Linked DNA regions of Homo sapiens. The protein of the gene in region 1 interacts with the protein of each later gene in a pairwise test. Each region holds a gene or a part of one and is shown in the gene's direction. Other genes may lie near its edges.

Evidence for each region. The genes of interacting proteins can lie anywhere in the genome.
Region 2: the proteins of CACFD1 (region 1) and PITPNC1 interact in binary tests that used the Homo sapiens proteins (3 or more experiments, as listed by UniProt).
Region 3: the proteins of CACFD1 (region 1) and NDRG4 interact in binary tests that used the Homo sapiens proteins (3 or more experiments, as listed by UniProt).

What each region holds. Positions count from the first base shown.
Region 1 is NC_000009.12:133,455,268-133,462,997, forward strand, and holds the start of CACFD1 (calcium channel flower homolog), read left to right. Parts: upstream 1-4,710; 5' UTR 4,711-4,799; coding exon 4,800-4,920; intron 4,921-5,173; exon of another isoform or gene 5,174-6,915; coding exon of another isoform or gene 6,916-6,952; intron 6,953-7,730. Other genes in the region: ADAMTS13 (A disintegrin and metalloproteinase with thrombospondin motifs 13 isoform 1 preproprotein), read left to right, coding at 18-336, 802-948, 1,276-1,452, 2,643-2,827, 3,707-3,913. UniProt on the Homo sapiens protein: Transmembrane protein which mediates synaptic endocytosis and fitness-based cell culling.
Region 2 is NC_000017.11:67,688,278-67,695,297, forward strand, and holds part of PITPNC1 (cytoplasmic phosphatidylinositol transfer protein 1), read left to right. Parts: intron 1-993; exon of another isoform or gene 994-1,096; intron 1,097-4,294; coding exon 4,295-4,611; 3' UTR 4,612-7,020.
Region 3 is NC_000016.10:58,503,140-58,510,159, forward strand, and holds part of NDRG4 (protein NDRG4), read left to right. Parts: intron 1-566; exon of another isoform or gene 567-604; coding exon of another isoform or gene 605-658; coding exon 659-764; intron 765-1,014; coding exon 1,015-1,135; intron 1,136-1,219; coding exon 1,220-1,282; intron 1,283-1,449; coding exon 1,450-1,510; intron 1,511-3,247; coding exon 3,248-3,334; intron 3,335-3,418; coding exon 3,419-3,475; intron 3,476-3,772; coding exon 3,773-3,876; intron 3,877-4,668; coding exon 4,669-4,725; intron 4,726-4,808; coding exon 4,809-4,860; intron 4,861-5,822; coding exon 5,823-5,870; intron 5,871-6,014; coding exon 6,015-6,050; intron 6,051-6,161; coding exon 6,162-6,213; intron 6,214-7,020. UniProt on the Homo sapiens protein: Contributes to the maintenance of intracerebral BDNF levels within the normal range, which is necessary for the preservation of spatial learning and the resistance to neuronal cell death caused by ischemic stress.

The sequences.
Region 1 (7,730 bases):
CTCCCCTCTCTTGGCAGTGCTCTGTTTCCTGTGGGGATGGCATCCAGCGCCGGCGTGACACCTGCCTCGGACCCCAGGCCCAGGCGCCTGTGCCAGCTGATTTCTGCCAGCACTTGCCCAAGCCGGTGACTGTGCGTGGCTGCTGGGCTGGGCCCTGTGTGGGACAGGGTACGCCCAGCCTGGTGCCCCACGAAGAAGCCGCTGCTCCAGGACGGACCACAGCCACCCCTGCTGGTGCCTCCCTGGAGTGGTCCCAGGCCCGGGGCCTGCTCTTCTCCCCGGCTCCCCAGCCTCGGCGGCTCCTGCCCGGGCCCCAGGAAAACTCAGTGCAGTCCAGTTATGTCCTGTCCTCCTTCCTGTCAGGCAGCTGCTGCAGGAGGGGTGGGCAAAGGCATCTTCCTCTGGGAAGGACTGGCACAAGCACTTGGTCCCTGGGTTGTGTGCCTGGGAGGCCGGGATCAGGGCTGGCCCTCTTTCTCCCTGGCAAAGCAAAACCTCCCTTTTACTACTATCAAGGGGAAGTAACTTGAAGGTAGGAACCCAGCTTGTGAGCCCCCTAGCCTCTGGGCTGCTCTGCATGTGCCCCCTCTTGCTGGATCATCTGGTAGCAGCCCTGTGCCCTGAGGGTGATGCTCTGACCTATGCAGCCCCCCTCCCTGTCCTGAGAAGGCTTCCAGCTGGGCCTTGGAGGACAGGGTCCACCCCTACCTCCTGGTCTCCTTCCTCAGCTTGGAAGCCCCGGAGCCTGCCCTGCTGGGAATCGGGGAAGCACTGCTTACCTGTCTCCTGCTCCCTTTTCAGGTGCCTGTGGCAGGCAGCACCTTGAGCCAACAGGAACCATTGACATGCGAGGCCCAGGGCAGGCAGACTGTGCAGTGGCCATTGGGCGGCCCCTCGGGGAGGTGGTGACCCTCCGCGTCCTTGAGAGTTCTCTCAACTGCAGTGCGGGTATGTCTAGGGCCATGCAAGCGATGCTGCCAGTTATGGGCCCTGCCAGGAGCCAGCACGACGCTGCATGCCCCATTCCTGGCAGGAGCCCATGTGCATTCCCACCTGTAGTTTGCATCCCATCTCATGACTGGGGAGTGATGATCTGCATTTTACAGATGAGGAAACTGAGGCTAGGAGAGATTAAGTGATGTGCCCAGTTACTTAGAGTCACATAGCCAGCAGTGGGAGAGGTGGGACTTGAACTCGGCTCAGTCTACCCTGGAGCCACTCCTCTGCTGACCAGGCGTGGGAGTGCTGGACCCTCACTGCCCTGCCGCTTCCTAGGGGACATGTTGCTGCTTTGGGGCCGGCTCACCTGGAGGAAGATGTGCAGGAAGCTGTTGGACATGACTTTCAGCTCCAAGACCAACACGCTGGTGGTGAGGCAGCGCTGCGGGCGGCCAGGAGGTGGGGTGCTGCTGCGGTATGGGAGCCAGCTTGCTCCTGAAACCTTCTACAGAGGTATGGCCAGGCCTTCTCCACCTCCCTTGGGTGCTCCAGTCCTGGCAGGGAGGCTGGGTGGGTGCTGCTGGGGATGGGGCCAGTCCCAGTGGGGCAGTGGGAAGATACGGAGGGAACTGACTGAGATGGAAGGAACTGGGGTTGGCCAGTGTCAGTCTGCACGTGCCAGGGAGGGGTCACAGGATGAATGCTATATCCCTCCTTTTTGGGACCGTGCAGCAAGATGGACGGATGTGGGACATGGTCCACATCCTCAGTCAGTCCCTCAGGCCTCTGCCCCACACCCACCTGCCCCGCCCCCACCCCTCCAGCCTTTCAAGGGCTTTTAGGGTTTTGTGGAAGCCACTGTCCCTCAGCCCTGTTTCAGTGCACTGGTGTAAGCAGACATGCTTGTACATGCATGTGCACCCACAAGCACACCTCAGGCAGAGGATGCCACCTCAGGGACTCCAGCCTTGCCCGTGGCCCCCTCGATATCCTCTGATAGCCCTCTCGGTTGTCCTGGGGGGCTTGCCCTCTCCCAACAGCCCGAGCTGGCCGAAGTTGGCTTCCCTAGCTGGTTCCAGAGGTTCCTCGGCTCCCCCAGGTGTCTGGGGCTTAGTGGCAACAGGGGCTTAGCCTCTGCAGAGACCTAGTGCGCCGCCTCCTTGCCCCAGACCTGCCCGGGCAGAGAGCCGTGTATGTGTCCCAGTGCACAGGCGCTGCTGGGCCCTGCCAAAAGGCCACAAGCCCACTGTCACCGTTCACATTGCTTCTCGCTTCCCGGCCCAGCCCCGCCCACACAGGCATCTGCCTTGAAAGAGGTGCAGGAGGTACAGGCAGGTGGGGGCTCCAGTGAGCTCTGAGGAACAGCAGTGGCCGCCATGGGTGGAGCCTATCTTTGTTGCCAGTTTCAGTGTTAAACACTCTTGCACGTGTGACATCATTGAGTCCTAAAGACCACTCTGCTCAGTGCATGCCATTGTTTCCTTCAGTTACAGAGGAGGGAACCAGAGCCCAGAACATTTAGCCTTTGCCTAAAGTCACTGGGCCAGGAAGTGGTAGAGGTGGGGTTCAGCAGGATTTGCCTGGGAACCCCAATATTGACCACAGTGCCATGCTGCCCTGCACGGCTCCCTGGCTGTGAGTTGTCCTGGCCTCTGGCACCACCGGTCTGTCTGGGTTCCTATGTCCCTATGTCCCACCTGCAGAATGTGACATGCAGCTCTTTGGGCCCTGGGGTGAAATCGTGAGCCCCTCGCTGAGTCCAGCCACGAGTAATGCAGGGGGCTGCCGGCTCTTCATTAATGTGGCTCCGCACGCACGGATTGCCATCCATGCCCTGGCCACCAACATGGGCGCTGGGACCGAGGGAGCCAATGCCAGCTACATCTTGGTGAGGCCCAGCATGGGGACTTGTGCTGTGATTCTGGACAGCTTTCCCTAGGGCGTGCAGGGCTAGGGGACCCCCTTCAGTTTATTTCAGACTAAAACCCTCAAAATCATTAGTGAAAGAATGGGAGAAGATAGCTTCCTCCACATATTCACCAAGAAATGTTTTTTGAGCTACCTACAAGAGTGAAATAGTGGCTCACAACTGTAATCCCAGCACTTTGGGAGGCCCAGGAGGGCAGATCACTCAAGGTCAGGAGTTCGAGACCAGCCTGGCCAACATGATGAAACCTTGTCTCTACTAAAAATAGAAAAAGTAGCCAGGCATGGTGGCGTGTGCCTGTAATCCCAGCTACTTGGGAGGCTGAGGCACAAGAATCACTTGAACCCGGGAGGTGGAGGTTGCACTAAGCCCAGATCGCACCACTGCACTCCAGCCTGGGCAACAGAGTGAGACTCTGTCTCAAAAAAAAAAAAAAAAAAAAAGCGAAATGGTAAAGAATGGTAAAGACCTTTCTGATGTAGACTGACAGCTAACCCAAGACTGAAGCATAATTTTACAGTCTGATATAACTTGGACAGAATAGCACCCTGCACCCTCCCCGAGGTTTCAAGTGTCCTGGGAGAACTGTGTTCTGCAGGGTATCAGCTTCCCCAGAGGAGGCAGCCTGGCCCCGCTCTGGCACCCTGACTGTGTGTCCTTGGGGAAGTGATGTAACGTCCCTGGACCTCGGTTTTCTGGGTAGAGTAATGGCGTATTCCTAGTAGGGCTTTGTAAGCATTAAATGTGATCCGGAATCTGTGAGCCCTTGCACACGAAGGCTTCCGTGAGTGCTAATTATTACTTGTGGCCGGTCCTTCTGGGCTGCCCCTTTTCTCTCAGATCCGGGACACCCACAGCTTGAGGACCACAGCGTTCCATGGGCAGCAGGTGCTCTACTGGGAGTCAGAGAGCAGCCAGGCTGAGATGGAGTTCAGCGAGGGCTTCCTGAAGGCTCAGGCCAGCCTGCGGGGCCAGTACTGGACCCTCCAATCATGGGTACCGGAGATGCAGGACCCTCAGTCCTGGAAGGGAAAGGAAGGAACCTGAGGGTCATTGAACATTTGTTCCGTGTCTGGCCAGCCCTGGAGGGTTGACCCCTGGTCTCAGTGCTTTCCAATTCGAACTTTTTCCAATCTTAGGTATCTACTTTAGAGTCTTCTCCAATGTCCAAAAGGCTAGGGGGTTGGAGGTGGGGACTCTGGAAAAGCAGCCCCCATTTCCTCGGGTACCAATAAATAAAACATGCAGGCTGACCGGCGTTTTTTTCTTATAAGCTGTCCAGACCTGGCTTGAAAACCCATCCCATGGCAAGGCAGGGATTCGCTGGCCGCGGTTGGCTCTATCTTGATCTGAGCAAGCCGCTGGACGTCCCTAGTTATCTTCTTCCTATCCAGGAAGAAAATCCAATCAGGATTCCACTCCGAGGATGGCGCATTAGCCAGCTCCCTGCGAAGCCCCACCCGTGTGTCCTGGTGTGAGGCTCTGACCGCTAAGGTGTCTGCGCGCCTCCAGGCCCCGCCCCCTATGCTAATAAGCGCCCGCCTCCTTTGGGAGCAAGTCGCCGCAAACTGCGAGCCCCCGCCCCCTACGCTAATGACGCCCGCCCCCCTCGGGCACACCTCTCCGATGCCTGCGAGCCCCGCCCCGTATGCTAACGAGCTCCCCACCCCCAGCTCCTCGCCGCAGCCTGCGGGTCCCGCCCCCTACAATAATGAGCACCTACCTCCCCTCAAACGCCCCTAGTCGCGGCATGAGGGTCCCGCTCACTATGTTAATGAGCACCCGCCTCCCTTCGGGCGCGCCTCGCCGCAGCCTGAAAGCCCCGCCCCCTATGCTAATATGCTCCCTCTCCCACAAGGCAGCGCGCCGGCTCGGACGCGGCCGGCTACCGAGCCCTTTGTGAGGGCTGTGAGCTGCGCCTGACGGTGGCACCATGAGCAGCTCAGGTGGGGCGCCCGGGGCGTCCGCCAGCTCTGCGCCGCCCGCGCAGGAAGAGGGCATGACGTGGTGGTACCGCTGGCTGTGTCGCCTGTCTGGGGTGCTGGGGGCAGTCTGTGAGTATCCAGTCGGGGAGAGGGGCCGGCCCCGCCGCGCATGCGCTCCTCGCCCTGCCCTGCCCCGCCCCGCCCCGGCGGCCCCAGGGGAAAGGACCCGCTGGGGGTCGGGGGTCTGCCGGGCGCCTCCCGGGGCGGAGGAATGGCGGGGCCGCCGGGAGCCGGCGTCCTGGGGTTGCCATGGTTACCCGCTCGGGCCTGGGCGCCTTGGTACCCCGGGCTGGGCTGGGCTGGCGCTTCTGGGAACATTCCCGGAGGGACCAGAAACCCCAGGGCGGGGGGGCGGCGGGGGCGGGGGTGGGGCACCGGCCTGGGGCACGTGACTGAGCCCTCCCCCCGCTCCCCAGGGGCTTTTGTGAGACTTTCTCGGTGATGCTCACGGGGCGCATGCCCACCTGGCCCGTACTAAAGCGTCAACTGTTGACTTGGGCGTAGGTGACGGCAGCCACATTGCTAACCTTTGGGCAAGGATTGTTTGTAAGGGAGGCGGGTGCACGGCTGGCTAGATTTCTGGCAGGAAGCCACTGGGCGGAAGTTTGCTGAGGGTCAGGTGGTGTCAGGGCACAGGTGGCCCCTGGGGCCGCGGGGCAGTGAGCTGAGGGCCCGGCCTCTCCCTGGGTCCTCTGTCCGCTCTCATATCTCCCCCGTTGCTGCTGCCTTAGCCGCCTGTCACCGGCCTTCCTCCCCTTCTCCGCACGCATCCCAGTCACAGACCCTGACCTTAGGCTGCCAGGGAAGCTAGGCTCTTAAGCACAGCCAGAAAAGGACAAAGAGGGAGGCAGGTCAGCTCCAGGAGTGAATGGAAGCCGTACAGCTGGCCTTCCAGGGAAAGACAAGTCTGTCTGAGTGATACCCTTTCCTTTCCTGTCTGCCCTCAATCTTGTGGATTACTGGAGTGGGCAAGGTCTTAGAGAATGTCTGTCGAGGATGTCTGCAGGTTTTAAACAGTGCCTGCCTGGCAGAGAGGGCTAGCTCTGGGCCTGGGCAGGGCAGGCCCCATCAGCAATCCTGCCAGAAGGACCACCTTTTCAGGGTCACCTTGGGTTCCACAGCCTTTCCAGGTGGGTAGAGGGTGGAGGGAGGTTGAGGCAGGAGGGTGCTGGGCTAGGAGTGTGCTGCCCTCGCTAGGCATGCCCTTATCCAGAGGCAACGGATACGGTAGGGCAGGCCCTACCCCCAAATCACAAAAAGGCCCCGAGTTTGTGTCACTGCTCTTCAGGGCAAGTACGCTTTTGACTTTGTAGGAGAGACTGGTGGGTTTGAAGTTAGGCATTGGATCCAGTCCTGTCATGTCTGGTTAGCTGTTTTCCCTGCAGATTAGGGTGGGCAGTGCAGTGGGGTGACATGGTCAGTGGTGAGAAAGGAAAGGTCCTGACTATGGCCTGTAGGCCACACCTCCTTCCTTCTTGGTCAGTGGCCCTGCCGACTCCCAGATTTGCTGTGGAGTCTTACTCAGTTCTGTGCCTCTCAAAGTGAGGTACCTCTGCCTTTCCTGGGAGTTCCTGGGGCTCTGTTGGGTCTACAGATGAAGCTTCAGGAGAAACTTGTGGCATTGCCCTGAGTTGTCAGTTGCATCTGCAGATTTTTGGGGGCATGGTTATGTGAACATCAAAATGCTGTATTACAGGGTAGAATGCAAAAATGCAGGGTGTTTTAGAGATGCGGCAGGAGTTCAGACAAGGGTTGTGTGCCGGGCTGGTCCTTGGGTAAGGTTTTCCTCCTCCAGGGTGAGGGGATCAGAGAGAGTACCTGGAGAGGGTCTACCCTGGGTCCTAAGAGCATCTGGAGGTGATACCTTGGGAGGGGACAGGATTGCATGGTGACAGCCCCCTCACGTGGAAGATATCAGCATTGAGGCCCCCAAGTGGACATCCTCCAGCCCTTTATTGCTAAAGGATTCCTGGCTGGAGCCTGCTGGTCTGGCTTGACACCTGGTCCTCCCCCAAGGCTGGCTGTGGGTTGGACAGCTGGGGTAGGGTTGGAGCTGGAGGCCAAATGCTGACTGCAGCAGGAAGCACAGCCGAGCTGTCAGGTGAGGCCAGGCACAGCAGAGAGGCAGGGAGCCGTGTCACCCTTTGGGCACTCTGCTAGGACAGGCAGGCCCCTGTGTACCTGTGGTTCTGGAACACCTTGCTGTCTGAAGGCAGATGTCTAAGGCTGTGCTGAGGAGCAGTGCAACGCTTGAGTCCTTTGTTTTAGAAGGAGACCCTGGGGGCCCATGAAGCAGTCCCATTGCAGTTCGGCTCACTTTATCTGGCTTCTTTGCCTGCTGTCTGCATAAGGTTACCTGGGAAAATGGAAAACAGCAGAATTCCAGACCCAGGTGGAGGGATCAGGTGCAGAGGAGCTGCTGCAAGTTTAATGAGCTGGGTGCTAATTGCTGCCTCCAAGGCCCCCCTCAGTGATGGCCTGGGCTTGCTCCCTGCCCAGCAGCCACCTCCTTGGACCTGCCTTGAAGGCTCCTGGAGTTCCTGGTGAAGCCAGGCTGCAGGCTGTGGGTGGAGGAGGGAGTTGGGTGCAAGAGACCCTGCTGGTGAGGTGCAGCTGGGAGGCGGGGCGTCAAGGCTGCACATCTGAGCATCAGAGAAGCCACGTTCTGGGGTGGAAAACGATGCCCCCTCCCCTTCCTGGCCTTATGGCATTTCAGCGGTGGGTGGCTGGGCTGTGGGACTTGCTCATGTGCAAGAGGAGAAACGGGTCTAGGAAGATGAAGATAGCGTGCCAGTGGCACAGGGCTGGTGAGGAAGTTAGAGCTGGAACTGCTGCTCAGTCTTACCTGGTTCCCATCTCTGTTCTGAGAGAGGCACCCC
Region 2 (7,020 bases), on another chromosome or scaffold:
CAGTGAGCCAAGATCGCGCCATTGCACTCCAGCCTGGGCAACAAGAGCAAAATTCTGTCTCAAAAAAAAAAAAATCAATGCTGTAGTTCTAGGAAATTTAGATGTGGCTGTTGTCATAAATGGATCCTTTAGAATTGTGAAGACCTTCTGATTGCACTTTGGAAATTTTTAGTTAAATTTTTGGAGCATGTCTTTGGAATGTGCCCTGCAAGTCTCATGTGCTGCAACTGGTTGCATGTGATTGCCCTTGAGGTTGCAAGGGCCCTAACTCTTCTCCCATTTTGCATGCAGTGATCTGATTTGCAGGAAACTGTTGGAGCAAGAGGCGTTTCCTCTCTATGCACAGACCAATTCCAGTAGGACTTCCCCCTAGAAGTGCTCTTTAAGGAAACTCTCCTTGAATTTCTATCACTTTCAATTACCTTTTCTTTTAGAAATGTTGGGCCCCAGTTCCCCCTCAGCCACTCTGAAAGCCATTCACTATAAATATGACCAGGCAAACAAAGGAAGAAGCCACAGGTAAAGAGGAGACACCAGATGGCTAAAAGATGCTAAGCTCAGTGATTTTCTCACAGCTTATAAGCCCCTTGGCTTGGCTTTCTTTCAGTTTTACTGTGATTATTACTTTATAATTAAAGTCCATGGCTGGGTGCGGTGGCTCACGCCTGTAATCCCAGCACTTTGGGATGCCAAGGCGGGCGTATCACCTGAGGTCGGGAGTTCAAGACCAGCCTGACCAACATGAAGAAACCCCGTCTCTACTAAAAATACAAAATTAGCTGGGCGTGGTGGCGCATGCCTGTAATCCCAGCTACTCGGGAGGCTGAGGCAGGAGAATCGTTTGAACCCAGGAGATGGAGGTTGCAGTGAGCAGAGATTGTGCCACTGCACTCCAGCCTGGGCAACAAGAGTGCAACTCCATCTCAAATAAATAAATAAATAAATAAAGTAAAATAAATAAATAAAGTAAAATAAAAAATAAAGTCCACTTACTATGTAGAAGGTGATAACGTAGAGTGGTTCTTCCCATGGAAAAGCCCACATAATCTCTGGCTGCCCCTCAGCGTTGTTCCCGTGACTTCAGGGTGAAAGATGCCTGCCACCGGAGAAGTTACACAAAGTGGTTATTTTGAATGCTTATGACATTTCCATTATCCTTTGGAATTCCGTGAAATTGGAGCACATTTATTTTTCCTTAGTCTTTCTCCTGTATCATAATGAAAAGCAGTGAAAATCAGGAGGTGGCTCTTTGTCACAAATAAAAACTGCATGGGTGCTAAATGAATTTTAGATCATCAACCCAAGCAGGGACAAATTAGATTGAAATTAGGCAAAATTAACATCCATGAACACAGCAGTGAGGAAATAAGTCTTTTCAATTGAGCAGGTTCAAAGCCTTCAAGGACGGGAACTTCTAAGAGCCTCTGGGAGTGGAAAATCAAAATTCTGTGCTTTAGATTATTTCTGCCCCCTGCTGGCTATGTGGAGTAGAACAATGTATTCAGCCACTTGATTAAGAAAGTCTGCTTTTTCAAAGATAATATCCATTTATCATAGCAAAAACATAACATACCCTGATACACTAAAATTTTTCTCAGTCTCAACTTTATTGTGAAATAAATGCCTCTTTTTATATAACCTTAATCTCACTTCTTAGCTCATTTAATAGTCTTCCATGTTTTTAAAAATTGGTAAGTTTATAGGTACAATTTTTCTTGATATATGCTGAATTTTATATCTTATCCACATAGTCATAATGACTTATATCCTTTGTAAAAACTTTCCCTTTCAGAAAATTTTAATAATTGTTCCCAGGAAATCCTCTTAAGGATTTCATTTTGTGAAAAATACTTCTGGTTTGCTCAGATGTTATAAAACCTAAAGATTAAGCTGGGCACGGTGGCTCATGCCTATAATCCCAGCACTTTGGGAGGCTGAGGTGGACGGATGACCTGAGGTCAGGAGTTCGAGACCAGCCTGGCCAACATGGTGAAACCCCATCTCTACTAATAACACAAAAATTAGCCGGGCGTGGTGGCAGACGCCTGTAATCCCAGCTACTCGGGAGGCTGAGGCAGGAGAATCGCTTGAACCCCGGAGGCGGAAGTTGCAGTGAGCCGAGATCTCGCCGTTGCACTCCAGCCTGGGAGACAAGAGCAAAACTCTGTCTCAAAAAAAAAAAAAAAGAAAAAGAAAAGTCCTAAGGATTAATACTGTGTTATGAATATTCATTACATACTCAGTATTTCCAAAGTGGCTATATTGTTTCCTGCTGGTTATTCCCTCCAATATTATCTAATGAAGTTTCAACTGCTAAGTACATGGCAGTGGACAAGAAACAATGAAAAATGGGTCTCTGGGGGGCCAAAACAGATACAGAAAATCCGCGGGCACTAAATTTTGCATTTTGCTCCAGGATAAGCCTTGGGCCTTGACTCAGTCTTTAATAAGCCCAGGTTCCTCTTTTCCCTGTTCCCAGCAAGTAAAAATGGCAAAGGATACCAGGGATAGCCAGGGTAACAATAATTAATAATAACAGTAATAAGGCTGGGCACGGTGGCTCAGGTCTGTAATCCCAGCACTTTGGGAGTCTGAGGCAGGTGGATCACGAGGTTAGGAGTTCGAGACCAGCCTGGCCAACATGGTGAAACCCTGTCTCTGCTAAAAGTACAAAAATTAGCAGGGCATGGTGGCACGTGCCTGTAGTCCCAGCTATTCAGGAGGCTGAGGCAGGAGAATTACTTGAACCCAGGAGGTGGAGGTTGCAGTGAGCCAAGATCACGCCATTGCACTCCGGCCTGTGCAACAGAGCAAGACTCTATCTCAAATAAATAAATAAATAAATAAATAAATAATAACAGTAATAATAGAGTTTCTGAGCATGAGAGAAGAGATATCAAGCCATAAAGAGCAAATAGACCCTGAGAAGGAACTAAGGAACTGTATTTTTGCACAGTGATATATCTTCAACATATTATGTCTCAAATGTAGGAAGTATGTATAATACATTAAACACATTAGGGAAAGATTTACATTTTTTAAATACTGTTTTTACTTTCTCACTTAAATAAGAACATTTCAGGTATTTGGAAAACCTACATTATCCAACAATGATTATTAACAGTGGTATCACTGTCTTATTTGTTGAATTCCAAGTCATGCTTTTTTTTCTTTTAAATAGAATCCTCACTATTAAATGATCCTCTCCTTTCATTCTCTATTCTTTTTAAGTTTCCTCAAGAAATGGTTTTATTTTCTTGGCTTTGGAATGATTAGCAGGGTGTGGTGAAATTGTTGATTTACGTGTTTTTGAAACTGAATTTATTAAAACACAATCTCTGAACCTTCTTAGGATCGACACACAGTCAGGAAACCAGAAACAACAGCATCTTTGTGGCCCCTCAGAATAAAAAAGTATATGTATTGATTAAGAAGATAGCATGTTGGCCTGAGTACAGTGGCTCACGCCTGTAATCCCAACACTTTGGGAGGCTTAGGCAGGCGGATCACTTGAGGTGAGGAATTCAAGACCAGCCTAGGCAACATAGCGAGACCCTGTCTCTACAGAAAATACAAAAAAATTAAACCAGGCATTATGGCATGCACCTGTGGTTTCAGCCTCACGGGGCCCTAATGCAGGAGGATCACTTGAGCCCAGGAGGTCGAGACTGCCGTGAGTCATGATCGCACCACTGCACTCCAGCCTGGGTGATGCAGTGAGATCCCGTCTCAGAAAGAAAAAAAAAAAAGAAGATAGTATGTTGAAAAATCCTGATGATTTACCTGTTTACCCTATAAAGGTATACTTTCATGATCTAAAGTTGACAATAATGACAATAATATGTGTCATTTCAGGGCCATTGATTGTTTTAATTACCTTCTCTTTATGAAAAATATGACCAGTTAATTATAGCTCCAAATACCCCACACCAGACCCACAACAACACAGATGCACACGGGTGCACACACATACACACACACAGGCACATATTTCCCCCGTCTAGTTCTGTATTCTACTGTTAAGTCCTTATTGAGAATACTTAAAATACTCACTGTGAAGAGTGCTTTGGAAAATCTTAAATGGATAATCATAAAGGGATATTGTTTTCAGGGTGTAGCTTCCAATAGAAAAAATTGGGGGTTTGGTATTTCAATGATACTTTGGGTGTATAATCGGGAGAGGCCCCTTTATGATAGGGTTCCCATAGTTCCTGTAAAAACAAGGGTAGTGATGAATCTATTTGCCTCTCTTATAAATAACTGCTCGTTTTTCTTTCTGTTTTTCTCCTTGAAGACATGACAATGGATGAAGTCCGAGAATTTGAACGAGCCACTCAGGAAGCCACCAACAAGAAAATCGGCATTTTCCCACCTGCAATTTCTATCTCCAGCATCCCCCTGCTGCCTTCTTCCGTCCGCAGTGCGCCTTCTAGTGCTCCATCCACCCCTCTCTCCACAGACGCACCCGAATTTCTGTCCGTTCCCAAAGATCGGCCCCGGAAAAAGTCTGCCCCAGAAACTCTCACACTTCCAGACCCTGAGAAAAAAGCCACCCTGAATTTACCCGGCATGCACTCTTCAGATAAGCCATGTCGGCCCAAATCTGAGTAACTTTATATAAATATCTCATGGGGTTTTATATTTTCATTTGTTGTTGTTGTTTTTTTTTAAGAATCTTCTGATAGAGAAAAAGACTGCTTTGTCACTCAAACATGTTCCTTCGACCTTTCAGTGTGCATGTGACTCAGTAACTTCACATAGAATATGATTCCCTAAGTATGCTACACAGCATCATATTAGATGTAAGATGTAAGACTTGCAAAGGACAGAAGGAATCTTCTGTAACCACATAGCTGTATGCCAGAGAGGAAGCCTTGTTATTGGGCATTTGATGAGGTTTGGCATGGACTTCAAGGATAAATGAATGAAAACTTTGCACCACTTTTGTTACAAGGTACGGTAGAAAATAGTGAAGTCAGTTTCCTCTCATCAAATCTAAAATTCTCCAAAATACTCTCAGGCATAACATACTTAGCTGTTAAATTTTGAACTGCTAATTACTAATACTTGAATACCAATAGTTACTGAGATTCCTATTTTGTGGTTAGTCTGACTCAGGATTTGGAGCCTAATTAACTCTAAACTTTTGAAAATTTTAATCATCAAGCTATAGAGGCTCCAAGTGCAATTAATAATAACTCATTTATACCTTCCACAGAATTTAATAAAGATTCTACTTGTTTCTGTCTTTTAATAACTTTCCCCTTTTGTGCCCTTGTGGCCTCAGAAATCCTTAAGAATTGCATGGATGAATGTGACCATAACTGATTTTGGAATGGTTCAGTTTAGGAACCAAGAGGCCCAGGTGAGGCAACATCTTTTTTCTCTACAGGTACCAACAAACCTTGACTTGTCAGCTTCCATCATCAATTAAGATTCTCAGAATTTGCAATTAATTGAATAGAATTCATTTACTATCTGCCCACTCAAAGAAGTACAAGGGTAGAGTAAGCTAACTGGGCTTTAACATGGTCAGAATGTCTGGTGCATGAACTATAAAAAAGAGAACTGTCTCCCATCCCCTTCCTTGTTTTACTCTTAGTAACATCCAGAATTCCCTGGAACAGATTGCCTACCACCAGACCTTAGAAAAGACTGTCATTCTCTTGCTCCTTACTTGAAATACAAATATTGGGAATGTCACAGACATCAAGCAACTACTGTCAAGTGGGAGGAGAGAATGAGCAGAATTGCTGACTCCTATTTGTAGAGTGAAAAGGAGGAGTGATAATAGATGCCCTTCTGTCTAGCTTTCCTTTCTTCAACTAGTGGTAATGCAAGATTAGAATCAAGGTTGACAGGAGGCAAGGTCACTCACTGAAGTGACAGAAAGACAATTCTCCTTTGCTCCAAAGAGAGAAATCTGTCACCTTTGCACCTCACTGCCTTTAAACACAGACGGGAGGGCAGGCCAAATCTCAGCATTGACTTTTGTCCTCCAAGAGAGGAAGAGAAGAAGTAATTGGGCAACTTGGAGGCCCACGCCCCAGCTAGCCTTCCTGATCGTAACCTCCAACCTCAGGAAAGGGACCTTCCCAAAACACAGATCCCAAAGGAAACAAAATAGACCAAGGAGCATAATCTGCTTCTCTCACACAGCCTCTCTGCCAGTGGACCCTGCCTGCTTCCCTCTCAGTGCTCAGCACTCTGTGTAGTGTCTTTCAGGTTGATACACTCTCCCAAGGTGCAGGCGCTGGCCCCATGAGCCCAGCACCAAAGTTTTCTAAGTCATAGGTCAGACTGTCAAGATCATTTCTTTATCTATAGGTTGATATTTAGCTTAAAAAAAAAGAATAAACCTAGAACTCAAAGGAAACCTGTTGCAAATAGCTTAGATCAACAGTGTATCTCTTCCCTAAGAATGATAGTATCTTAGTAAGACACCTTCTATGCATGGTATGGAAGCATGATTTTTGCTTGTGGGAAAACCTAATATTTTATCAGACCCCTCGGACTTCTCAATCCCTCCCTCTCCACACAGTAGTACTTAATGAAAATGTTTTGCTTTAGAGAGCAAAATGCTACTTTCAGAAGACACTGAAATAGTATATGTATTTGCTTACCATTTGCAAGCTAAAATCAAGGTGGGATGGGGTCATTATTTTCACATAGAATGTATTTATTTTGTGCAGGCTGTTAAACACATCTGGCACCTAGTTTTTCCATTAAGAGCATTGCTATTTTCCCTTTTTATAAAGTAGCTTCTGCTGTCAAGGTTAACAATTCTATATGCTTTAGGAAGCTAAGTTCTAATTTCCTTTTGTGAGTTTCATTTCTTTTATAACCAGTATGTTACCACAGACATCAGTTGCAAAGCTACGATGATAGTGTGATTCTTAGCCGAAAAAAAAGCGTGTGCTCTTAAAGTATGTTCAGTTTTTCTGTCTACATATGCTTTGTGTGAGTTAAAAAGGGGGTGGGTGGTGTAAATATTCCTTTAGCTGCTTTGCATATTTAACC
Region 3 (7,020 bases), on another chromosome or scaffold:
GTGTGAACTCAAGAGGATCCCAGAGCAGGCTCTGCAGAAGGCCTCTAGAGGGGATGGGGAGGGGGGTCTGACCCGGGCCTGCCTGAAGGGAGCCCTTGAGGATGCTGGGCTCACACAGAAGGGCGTTCAAGGTGGAAGGAACCACATGCGCAAGAGCCTTAGAGTGGGAGCCAGGGGCAGTGCCGGGGTCGGGGCTAGGCTTGGCTGGCACGGGGTGTTTTCTGAGGATTCCAGGCAGGACCACTGAGGCCGTTCCCCTGCAGCAGCAGGAAGTGCCTGAGAGTTCTGAGTGTGAGAGGGACTTGGGCTGGGGAGGCAGAGCTGTCCAGGAGGGGCTGCTGCAAGATGGAGAAAAACAGCCTCCCTGGACCCTCAAGGGCGGAGGACAGTGACAGCACAAACCAGTGGCTGGTTTGCAGAGAGGACCAGACCTTCCCCATGCAGATCAGTTCACATTGTCTCTGTACTGAACAGCCCTGAGAAGGGGTGTTCCATCCATTCAGTCCTCTCTGGGGGCTTCTTGGGGTGATGAGAACAGGATGCCCCAAGTAGGGGCTCTACCACAGGCCTAACAGGTACCAGGCTGCGTCACCTCATTCCCCAGAGGAGCCAAGAGCGGAGGCTGCCCAGAGTGTCCAGCACGGTCTCTCCCCTTCAGGAACATGACATCGAGACACCCTACGGCCTTCTGCATGTAGTGATCCGGGGCTCCCCCAAGGGGAACCGCCCAGCCATCCTCACCTACCATGATGTGGGCCTCAACCGTAAGTGCAGCCCAGCCTCAGTCAGCCCTCCTCTGCCTCCCATCAGCCAGAGCGGTGAGGCCCCCCACCCTCCCCACAGGGCCCTGTCAGCCCCACTCACACTCACCTCTGTTGCCTTCGCCCTCCGGGCCTCCATTTCCCCGACGGACCCGAGGCTTACACTTCTGCCTTGCCTGCCCTCTGGGGGCCCGGCCTTCCTTCCAGTCCCCCGGCCCCTCTGCTCAGCCATAGTGGAAGTGTGTCTTTGCAGACAAACTATGCTTCAACACCTTCTTCAACTTCGAGGACATGCAGGAGATCACCAAGCACTTTGTGGTGTGTCACGTGGATGCCCCTGGACAACAGGTGGGGGCGTCGCAGTTTCCTCAGGGGTAGGTACCCTGAGCCCCCTCTGCCTGTCTCCAGCTCTGCACCTGAGGCCACACCTGGGCCCTGACCTCCTGCTCTGCCTGCAGGTACCAGTTCCCCTCCATGGAGCAGCTGGCTGCCATGCTCCCCAGCGTGGTGCAGCATTTCGGGTGAGTCCCCGCACAGCCCCTGCGCTAGGGCCCAGGGGTGCCTACCCCAACTGCAGAGCCACCTGGCTCCAGCTGAGGGCTTCAGGCTATGGGCAGGGCCTGCTCTGGATGACATGTATGGGAAATGGCACCCCTAGCCCTAGAGTGACCAGCCTGCTCTGCACCAGGTTCAAGTATGTGATTGGCATCGGAGTGGGCGCCGGAGCCTATGTGCTGGCCAAGTTTGCAGTGAGTCTCCCCATGCCCCCATTACCCCAAACACCAGGGCAAGCCAGGGATGTCCCAGTGGTGGGGACTGGGGGGAACCCTTCAGCCTTGAGGAAGTGTCCCTGCTCTCGCTTCTCCTCCTCCCACCTCCTCTTTATGTAGAAAACCTCTTTTTTCTTTTTTCCTCCAGGGAAATTAACTTTTTTAAAAAAGAGGTTCCTTTCTCCATATAGTTTTCTCAAGAGACTAGAAACTATAACTTGCTTAAACTATTATCCAAAGCCAGAATTTCTAGTAGCAACAAACTATACAACTAACTGCTCTAGCCACTAAATAAGGATCGTCCTTCACTAATTGCCATGGTATTTCAACATGAATAATTTTTTTAGCAAAAAATTTTATTATGGTTGGGAGGTTTAAAGAAGGCACATTTCAAAAACATCATTGTCGGTGGCTCACACCTGTAATCCCAGCACTTTGGGAGGCCAAGGTGGGCAGATCACGAGGTCAGGAGATCAAGACCATCCTGGCTAACACGGTGAAACCCAGTCTCTACTAAAAATACAAAAAATTAGCCGGGCGTAGTGGCGGGCGCCTGTAGTCCCAGCTACTCGGGAGGCTGAGGCAGGAGAAAGGCGTGAACCCGGGAGGCGGAGCTTGCAGTGAGCTGAGATCGCGCCACTGCACTCCAGCCTGGGCAACAGAGCGAGACTCTGTCTCAAAAAAATAAAAAAATAAAAAAAATCATTGTTGGGTAGGAATTCACAAGCTTTTCATCTCTAAAAACAAGCAAAAAAAAAAAAAACAAAAACCCAAAAGACTAATTTTTCACGATCGAAGACATTTACTACTTCAAAAGAAATGACCAAGAATTTTCAACTCCAGTTGCAATGTCAGCACTTAATCATTTTGTTAACTGGAGGCCATTCCCTGCCACCCTAGACAAGCTTGATGTGGTTATGCTGTTTTTCTTTAAGCACAGTCTAACAGTTGAAAAGAAAATACCTCTTTTGCAATGCCTACGGCAAAACAGACTTTGAAAAGGTTGTTTTTTTCTTAATTTATATCATGAGGGCTTCATTTTCTTTTTTTTTTTTTTTTTTTTTTTTTTGAGATGGAGTCTTGCTCTGTCGTCCAGGCTGGAGTGCAGTGGCATGATCTCGGCCCACTGCAACCTCCACCTCCCTGGTTCAAGCAATTCTCCTGCCTCAGCCTCCTAAGTAGCTGAGACTACAGGTGCATGCCACCACGCCTGGCTAATTTTTGTATTTTTATTAGAGACAGGGCTTCACCATGTTGGCTAGGCTGGTCTCGTATGCCTGACCTCAGGTGATCAGCCCGCCTTGGCCTCCCAAAGTGCTGGGATTACAGGCGTGAGCCACGGCGCCTGGCCAGGGCTTCATTCTCTATAAAAGCAAAAAAACAACATGCTTAAGATTTTAAGATGTTTAATACTCAATTTTGCACTTCAAAAATATATTAAGAGCTGATTCTGTTGAAAGAGCGTGTGTGTGTGTGTGTGTGTGTGTCTGTGTGTGTGTAGGGGTGGAAACAATGATAGAGATTCTAAATAAATCCAAGAACTGTGAAGGGTTCAGTGAGAGGAGGACAGGCAGGGGCATCTGGACATGGGTGTGCATGCACAGACCCGGCTGTAGCCGGGTGGCTGATCAGCAGCACCTTGAAGACTTTACAGAGTGTTTCTGCCATCTGCACCCATCCTGGCCCCGCCCGGCCCTGTTTCCCCTCTTACTGCAGCTCATCTTCCCCGACCTGGTGGAGGGGCTGGTGCTGGTGAACATCGACCCCAATGGCAAAGGCTGGATAGACTGGGCTGCCACCAAGGTGTGTGTGGTGACCGGGGGTGGGGTGGGTATACCTAGGGTGGGGTGAGGGGCGGCACTCACGCTGGCGCCCTGCTCCCTGCAGCTCTCCGGCCTAACTAGCACTTTACCCGACACGGTGCTCTCCCACCTCTTCAGCCAGGTAAGGGGGGGAACTTCTGCAGATCTGGGGTGATCTGGGATTTGCCCCTCCCAGCTGGCTCGGTAGGAGGCAGGCGGGTGTCTTTGGCATCTGACCTGGCTCACTCCAGATGCTAAGCCATCTGAAAGACAGACATCCCCTCCCAAGGCCCCACACCTCCTACCTGCCCCCACCCTGTCTCCCCTGCCTGCTGAGTGGGGCAAGGGCCACTCTGGCAGTGACATCTGCCAGCCCCCTCTAAGCCTGCGTCCCTCTGTCTGCCCCTCTGCATGCCTCCATCCATCTCCCTGGGCCTAGGAGGAGCTGGTGAACAACACAGAGTTGGTGCAGAGCTACCGGCAGCAGATTGGGAACGTGGTGAACCAGGCCAACCTGCAGCTCTTCTGGAACATGTACAACAGGTGCGGGTGGGATCAGCAGCCCTGGGACCCAGCACACCCCAGTGGGGGCCCTTGCACACTGCCCCCTGAGGGAGGCAGGCAGACAACACCCTTGCCCTGGTTTGTAGATGGGCACGATATTGGGCCTCAAAGGAGGTCATTTCCTGCACAAGGTCACACCCTGTGAGGGGCAGAGGGGAACAGGGTTTCAGACTCCGGGCCTTGGGCTCTTCCACTTTTCCTCCTCCCCTGGGGGCTTCCCGCTTGGGAATGTTGGGGGTGTTAGTGACATCCCTGACTCCAGTAACCCAGCCTTGATGTTGACGTCTGCAAAATGAGGAAGAGGTCGGATGAGCCTGTGGTTTTCAAGCTGTGCTCCTTGGAGCCCCCTTTAGGGGCTGCCCTGCCCTGCAGGAAGGTGGCCAGGCCCCCTCACTCACGTGCCCTCCTTCTCATTCTTCTACAAATATTAAGCACCTGCTGTGTGCATGGTGCTAAGAAAACAAAACAATAGAGAATAGAGAGACCCAGGGCCTGCCATCCCATATGGTCCAGGAGACAGGCCAGTAGCAGAAACTCCCACAGCACAGGTGGCGGTGCGCATGGCTCTGAGGGGGATAGAGAGCAAAATTTGAGAGCCCACCTGGTATGTGCTAGGGAGTCCAAAAAGCCGTGACAGGGAGCCTCCAGTTCATTTATGCAGAGCAGGTCCACGCCTCCCTGCTTTACCAATTGGCAGTGTTGGGCTTGGGATGCCCCTCATCCTGTCCTGGGGTGCCCACCTCTGCCTCTGCCCCTCCCCCTGCCCCACAGCCGCAGAGACCTGGACATTAACCGGCCTGGAACGGTGCCCAATGCCAAGACGCTCCGGTGAGTGGCCCCTGGCCCTCTGGCCTGCCCTGGCCTTTGCCCCCATGACCCAGCCAGACAGCCCTTTTCCTCTGTATCTGCAGCTGCCCCGTGATGCTGGTGGTTGGGGATAATGCACCCGCTGAGGACGGGGTGGTAAGTGAGGGGCTGTGGGCTCACTGGGGGTGGGAGGTAGGGGTGAGGGGCTCACTGGCCCCTGCCCAGCAGGGACAATTCTTGATCCAGCCCAGGGGAGCCTCCAGGGCCAGCAGTGGACGGTGGGCTTCTTGTCCACTTTCCCACAGTCTTGCCAAGCCTCACATCTGGCATAGCCCCCATCCTTCTGGCTGGGGAGGCCTGGAAATGGGGAGAGCTGGGGCCAGGGCTGGGCCATCAGAAGGTCCCCTCTTCCCTCCCCAGCAGCACAGCCCCAACTTGGTCCCTACCCACCTCAGGCCCAGGGTGTACGATCTTTTTTCTAAAATGTGATCAAGCCATTATAAATCATTAACGCATACAGCGGCACGGTCTCCCTTTTCCCGTCACCTGCAGCGGTTATGTTTGGGGGCCGTGTGTCACCTCTCCTGCTGGAACTCTGGGAGCAGGTGGCCTGAGGCTGGGATGCCCCATCAGCACAGAGCTGCTGGGAAGCTGCAGGGTCCAGAAGTGCCCAGAGCAGCCCCGTGCGCCCTGAAAATACCAGGCTTTCCCATGCCCACTGGGAGGTCCTGGAAGAGCAGGGTGGTGGGCTGTGCCAGCCCCCTCCACCCAGTCTCTCTCAGACCCTCGGCACCCCTCACCTCACTGCCGAGGGCACTGGGGCTTTCCCAGGCCAGTCCCACCACGGCAGCCCAGCCCTCGCCTGACTCCCACTCCTAGCAGTTGTGAGTGGGCTCCAAGGGTCCCAGGCCCTTCAGTGGGGCTGTTAAACTGGTCTCCAAGAACATGGGGAGCCCTGGGAGAAGAAAGCCTGGGAGGAGCAGCCTGTCACAGCTGCTGGGCCTCCCTCTGCCTCCCTGCACCCCCTCTCCTCCCCGAGCTTGGGGCATCAAACCTGCCTTGGCAATGGGGGTGGGGAGGGGCAGGGGCTGTTGCTGAAGCTGGCTCCTTGTCCTCAGGTGGAGTGCAACTCCAAACTGGACCCGACCACTACGACCTTCCTGAAGGTGAGGCTTTCTTCCCCAGCCCTGGGCCAGCTTCCCTAGCATGGGCCCAACCTCAGGGAGGTGTTTTCCTGGGGTCCCAGCCAGGGTGGGAGCTTGTCCTGGAGTGAGGGCCCTGCTCAGGTCACCCCACTCTCTCCCTTGCAGATGGCAGACTCTGGAGGGCTGCCCCAGGTCACACAGGTGAGACTTTTGGCCCTCCTGCCCTTACATCTATGGGGAGGGGGAAGCCTCTACCCTACCTGCTAATCCTAGGCAGCCAATGAAAGCATGTGCTTGTCCTGCCCTCCGCAGCCAGGGAAGCTGACTGAAGCCTTCAAATACTTCCTGCAAGGCATGGGCTACAGTGAGTACATTTCCACCCCACCCCACACCACCTAGAGACCGGTGGGCAGGCAGTGCTGGGGTTGGGGCTCCTGTTTGCAGGGCTGGCACGTGGTGTCAGGTGGTAGTAGGGAGCCCATAAGCATAGGAGTTTTGTGTGACCTGGGCCCCGGATGCTGGGCCCCACAGATGCCACCTGAGTTGCAAGTTGGCCATCCCAGGCTGTGCCCAACTCCCCTTTGCCCTTAGGGAGGACTTGGCGCACTGTTCTGATGGCAGTGCTGGGCCTACTGGGGGAAGGGACTCTTCCTTCCGTGCTGGGGGTCCAGGGCCAGGGGCCGTGTCCTGCCAGGGAAGCCTGTCTGGGGGTGAGGCACACTCCCCTCACCCGCCCCAGGGCTTGGGGTCAGAGCTGGGTCTATGGCACCTGAGAAGGCCTTTTGAAACAACTCATGGCTGCACCCAGGGGCATCATAGGAGTGGGCTTGGAGTTTGGGGCCAGGGAAGGCAACTGGGGCCGCCTGGCATTCAGAGAGCTGAAAGCAGCTGAACCTGGCTTGGCAGATCTGAAAATCTGGGTCTGGGGTGGAACCAGGTACACACACACAGACACACACACACACACACACAACACACCCCTTGTGTGTCTCCTTGACTTCCCCCTTCCCTCCAAGACATACCTGTTCCTCCAGGTCCCCACTGCCAGGAGGCAAACTTCCTCTTCTCAGTTTGTTTTTTGTTCCCCTCCAGACTTCAGCCTCTGGAGCTATCTCCAGGGCAAACAGGAGGGCTGCCTGTGGGAAGGCTGGGGAGGACACCCAGGAATAGA